Linked DNA regions of Homo sapiens: region 1 is linked to region 2. Evidence: fine-mapped expression QTL. A gene starts in region 2. The other region holds a variant in brackets. All regions are shown on one strand. Distances are between the middles of the regions. Region 1 has its middle 20 kb from the start of CCDC152. Region 2 holds the start of RIMOC1 (RAB7A interacting MON1-CCZ1 complex subunit 1).

Region 1 (2,912 bases), 830 kb after region 2:
AAACAGAACAGAAAAACTGGAAACTCAAAAACGCAGAGCACCTCTCCTCCTCCAAAGGAACGCAGTTCCTCACCAGCAACGGAACAAAGCTGGATGGAGAATGACTTTGACGAGCTGAGAGAAGGCTTCAGACGATCAAATTACTCTGAGCTACGGGAGGACATTCAAACCAAAGGCAAAGAAGTTGAAAACTTTGAAAAAAATTTAGAAGAATGTATAACTAGAATAACCAATACAGAGAAGTGCTTAAAGGAGCTGACGGAGCTGAAAACCAAGGCTCGAGAACTACGTGAAGAATGCAGAAGCCTCAGGAGCCGATGCGATCAACTGGAAGAAAGGGTATCAGCAATGGAAGATGAAATGAATGAAATGAAGCGAGAAGGGAAGTTTAGAGAAAAAAGAATAAAAAGAAATGAGCAAAGCCTCCAAGAAATATGGGACTATGTGAAAAGACCAAATCTACATCTGATTGGTGTACCTGAAAGTGATGGGGAGAATAGAACCAAGTTGGAAAACACTCTGCAGGATATTATCCAGGAGAACTTCCCCAATCTAGCAAGGCAGGCCAATGTTCAGATTCAGGAAATACAGAGAACGCCACAAAGATACTCCTTGAGAAGAGCAACTCCAAGACACATAATTGGCAGATTCACCAAAGTTGAAATGAAGGAAAAAATGTTAAGGGCAGCCAGAGAGAAAGGTCAGGTTACCCAGAAAGGGAAGCCCATCAGACTAACAGCGGATCTCTCGGCAGAAACCCTACAAGCCAGAAGAGAGTGGGGGCCAATATTCAACATTCTTAAAGAAAAGAATTTTCAACCCAGGATTTCATATCCAGCCAAACTAAGCTTCATAAGTGAAGGAGAAATGAAATACTTTACAGACAAGCAAATGCTGAGAGATTTTGTCACCACCAGGCCTGCCCTAAAAGAGCTCCTGAAGGAAGTGCTAAACATGGAAAGGAACAACCGGTACCAGCCGCTGCAAAATCATGCCAAATTGTAAAGACCATCGAGACTAGGAAGAAACTGCATCAACTAACGAGCAAAATCACCAGTTAACATCATAATGACAGGATCAAATTCACACATAACAATATTAACTTTAAATGTAAATGGACTAAATTCTCCAATTAAAAGACACAGACTGGCAAATTGGATAAAGAGTCAAGAACCATCAGTGTGCTGTATTCAGGAAACCCATCTCACATGCAGAGACACACATAGGCTCAAAATAAAAGGATGGAGGAAGATCTACCAAGCAAATGGAAAACAAAAAAAGTCAGGGGTTGCAATCCTAGTCTCTGATAAAACAGACTTTAAACCAACAAAGATCA[A/G]AAGAGACAAAGAAGGCCATTACATAATGGTAAAGGGATCAATTCAACAAAAAGAGCTAACTATCCTAAATATATATGCACCCAATACAGGAGTACCCAGATTCATAAAGCAAGTCCTGAGTGACCTACAAAGAGACTTAGACTCCCACACATTAATAATGGGAGACTTTAACACCCCACTGTCAACATTTGACAGATCAACGAGACAGAAAGTCAACAAGGATACCCAGGAATTGAACTCAGCTCTGCACCAAGCAGACCTAATAGACATCTACAGAACTCTCCACCCCAAATCAACAGAATATACATTTTTTTCAGCACCACACCACACCTATTCCAAAATTGACCACATAGTTGGAAGTAAAGCTCTCCTCAGCAAATGTAAAAGAACAGAAATTATAACAAACTATCTCTCAGACCACAGTGCAATCAAATTAGAACTCAGGATTAAGAATCTCACTCAAAGCCGCTCAACTACATGGAAACTGAACAACCTGCTCCTGAATGACTACTGGGTACATAATGAAATGAAGGCAGAAATAAAGATGTTCTTTGAAACCAACGAGAACAAAGACACAACATACCAGAATCTCTGGGACGCATTCAAAGCAGTGTGTAGAGGGAAATTTATAGCACTAAATGCCCACAAGAGAAAGCAGGAAAGATCCAAAATTGACACCCTAACATCACAATTAAAAGAACTAGAAAAGCAAGAGCAAACACATTCAAAAGCTAGCAGAAGGCAAGAAATAACTAAAATCAGAGCAGAACTGAAGGAAATAGAGACACAAAAAACCCTTCAAAAAATCAATGAATCCAGGAGCTGGTTTTTTGAAAGGATCAACAAAATTGATAGACCGCTAGCAAGACTAATAAAGAAAAAAAGAGAGAAGACTCAAATAGACACAATAAAAAATGATAAAGGGGATATCACCACCGATCCCACAGAAATACAAACTACCATCAGAGAATACTACAAACACCTCTATGCAAATAAACTAGAAAATCTAGAAGAAATGGATACATTCCTCGACACATACACTCTTCCAAGACTAAACCAGGAAGAAGTTGAATCTCTGAATAGACCAATAACAGGAGCTGAAATTGTGGCAATAATAGTTTACCATCCAAAAAGAGTCCAGGACCAGATGGATTCACAGCCGAATTCTACCAGAGGTACAAGGAGGAACTGGTACCATTCCTTCTGAAACTATTCCAATCAATAGAAAAAGAGGGAATCCTCCCTAACTCATTTTATGAGGCCAGCATCATTCTGATACCAAAGCCGGGCAGAGACACAACCAAAAAAGAGAATTTTAGACCAATATCCTTGATGAACATTGATGCAAAAATCCTCAATAAAATACTGGCAAACCGAATCCAGCAGCACATCAAAAAGCTTATCCACCATGATCAAGTGGGCTTCATCCCTGGGATGCAAGGCTGGTTCAATATATGCAAATCAATAAATGTAATCCAGCATATAAACAGAGCCAAAGACAAAAACCACATGATTATCTCAATAGATGTAGAAAAAGCCTTTGACAAAATTCAACAACCTTCATGCTAAAAACTC
Region 2 (2,912 bases):
TGGACCTGAGAGTAAAACACTTCTGCAGAGATAATTTGTAGATCCACAGTCAAAATATTTCAGCTGTGCCTTTGTCTGTTGCCCACATGTCCAGGTAATTCTTTTAAGTAGTTTAAGAATGGTAAATTACACATTTTCTAGGAGACTGAAAATTCCTAATCAAAGGTTAATTATTTTTTGAAAATTATTTTTTGAAAAGTTTAGTAAAATCTTCTGAAGGCTTCATTTAGTTCTACATCTTGTAGAAGATTCAGAAGGCATCAGGTGTAACCTTCTGCTCTTTTCTCTATCCATTGCTGGCTCCCTACTTTCATTTTGAATTTATCCCTATTTCCCTATTTTTCCCCCTTTGTGTACAGATACGATCATTCTCCACCCTACCTTCCAGCACTTGCCCCTCTTCAACTACCACCTTCTCCATCCCTTGTTGAGAAAGCCTTCTCTCAACTTCTTGTTTATACTTAGATTCTTTTTTTCCTCACCTACAATTCCCACACTATTGAATAATTGTCTACTCCCACAGACCACATCATATCCCCTTGCCATCTTGCTTGTTGACAAGAGTGCATATGTGCCAGGCACTGTATGAGGCACCAAGGACACAAAATACATGATTCCTGTCCTCTATATTTAGGGTGAATTGTCAGAAGAAACTGGTATTACAAAGGTCAGTTAGAGAGTCATTGTGGTCAATCACTTATAAATCACAATACACTTTTTCTCTATTTTTAGTATTTTTCTATTACATATAAAAAACTACCTTCCATGAGAAACAATAGGATGGAGATTATTCAAGATATAGTGTGTCAAACTGAGAAATGAATACACAGAGTTAACGATTTGTTTGACCAGAGGCAAGAAAGCATTCACAGAATGCAAAGTGAAGTTAGACTTGCTGACTGAGTGCTTTGAAACTCCCGATTGAGAGGATGAACCTCATGCACAATTAGCGCCTTAAGGGAAGGTCTTGAGATGAAAGAAAAATGAAAATAGTTTTGTGGCCGCAGAATTTACTACCACTGGACGCAAGATGTCTAAAGTACTTTAAATGTGAACTCCAAGGGAGGTCAGAGATAAATTCGACTGCTAAAAATCAGATTTACAAAAGCAATATTCAACCATGTAGACTGGCAACTCCACTAGTGTTTGGAGCTCCCCATCCAGATGTACAACAAACTCTTGGAGACTTGGATGTGTTACACAGGGGGCCGGTCGGGTTTCCATTTAGGACCAGGAGATTATAATCACTTTATTTTAGCAACCTCCTTACTACAAGGCCAAAACTGACAGTCCTCTCTCCAGACCCTCGCGTCCGCCCTCCAGACTGTGCTTCCCGCGCCGGACAGGGAAGTGGGAGTGCGGACGACAATCCGCATCCTGCCAGCCAGACGTCACCAAGCTGTCTTCCAAGAGGCAGGCGGAGAGAGCTGACTTCCGATTGGGTCAGCCGAGGGGCACGGCTGGCTCCCTATTGGCTTACAGGAGGGGGCTAGAGAGAGGCGTGTCTCAACGTCACACCCGCCCCTAGTCTCCTTGCTGCTCAGGATTATGGGAGGGAAGGGAAGTCCAGGAGGGAAAAATGACCCGGAAAGACCTTTGCCGGCCTGGGCCAGCCCTCTTCCGGAGCTGATGTCTCCTCCCACCAACCAGGAGAGGTCCGCCCTAGGCCCCGCCCGTGCCGGGGGATCAGGTGATTGCGGGCCAACACGGTCACGTGACCGGGGCGCACCCGCCGATTGTGGCCATGGCGGCCGCAGTCTCTAGTGTGGTGAGACGAGTGGAAGAGCTCGGGGATCTGGCTCAGGCCCACATACAGCAACTTAGCGAAGCTGCCGGTGAAGATGGTGAGGGAGCGGAGGAGAGGGAGGCGGGCGGGGCAGACGGCGCTAAGGTACTGGCGCTCGATGGCTGTGAGGGCTAGAGGCTGAGGCCTGTGTTCCTTTGGGTCCCAGGCCGCAGGTGGTTACCCGAGGTCTGTCGCTTCTGAGCCCCTCTGCGCCATCGATTGCCCACTTCCCAGAACTCACAATGCCAAGGCGTTGTCTTCGAAAACCGCATTATTCAGAACCCATGGAAAATCTGTCTAGATCCGTGCTGGTGTAAACTGTCTCGGTAGCGATTGGAAGAAGGGCAGAATCTAAATAAAATACAGAAGTTTAAATAAATGGCTAAGATGAATGATAACACTCAAATTAGTTATGGTGGTTTGCATCCTGTAAAGATAAAAAGACATGTATAACAGTTCCACTTTTTCATTGCTGCGTTGTAATTTGCGTTTTACGTTTTGGATTCAAAACAACATTCTATAGAAGAGCTTTACATTGGTGTGTAGACTATTCTGCCCCATACATCATGCCAGTTCTCACAAGGGCTCTGTTAAGTATTGGCATACTTGTTTTGGAAAGGTCTAAGCTGTTAGGAAAAACTGGGCTAGGGAATTGCCTCAACCTTCTGAATTTAAGTCCAATTCTTTTCATTACGTCTCAGCTGCCTTTAGGTTCTACATTATTCCTTTTTGAGTTTGAGCAATTACTACAGATAGTTTTTAAAATTCTGTGGACTGACTCATATCATCGGACTCATAGGAAAACAGTGGTGGAACATTTTCTTAAGCGATTGAATAGTTGGTGAATTTGTTATTAAATAGGGTCTATGATGAAATGCCTTAGTTTCAGTGAATATTTTTTGCCAGATTATCATTTATCAGGAGTGTTTTGTTTTGTTTTGTTTTTAGAGGCAGAGTATCATTCTGTTGCTCAGGCTGGAGCCCCTCTAGTAGTGGGACAACAGGCGCACACCATCTCGCCCGGCTAACTTTGGCATATTTTGTAGAAACGGGGTTCACCATGTCATCCAGGTTGGTCCTGAACTCCTGGGCTCAAGCATTCCACCCGCTTTGGCTTCCCAAAGTG

The links. PIP is the estimated chance that this variant, and not a neighbour inherited with it, causes the effect.
Region 1: its variant is the best candidate, but not a certain one, in a credible set for the expression of RIMOC1 in fibroblasts (GTEx, PIP 0.84).

Annotation. Positions count from the first base shown.
Region 1 is chr5:42,735,641-42,738,552 of GRCh38, forward strand. No RefSeq gene overlaps it. Among named protein-coding and RNA genes, the nearest start is that of CCDC152, 20 kb to the right of the region's middle. The variant A/G (reference allele first, on the strand shown) is at 1,337.
Region 2 is chr5:41,902,624-41,905,535 of GRCh38, forward strand. RIMOC1 (RAB7A interacting MON1-CCZ1 complex subunit 1) reads left to right here and starts at 1,721. Exons shown (of 6, transcript NM_175921.6): 1 at 1,721-1,844. The coding sequence starts at 1,745. RefSeq lists enhancers at 1,154-1,293, 1,405-1,951, 1,704-1,823.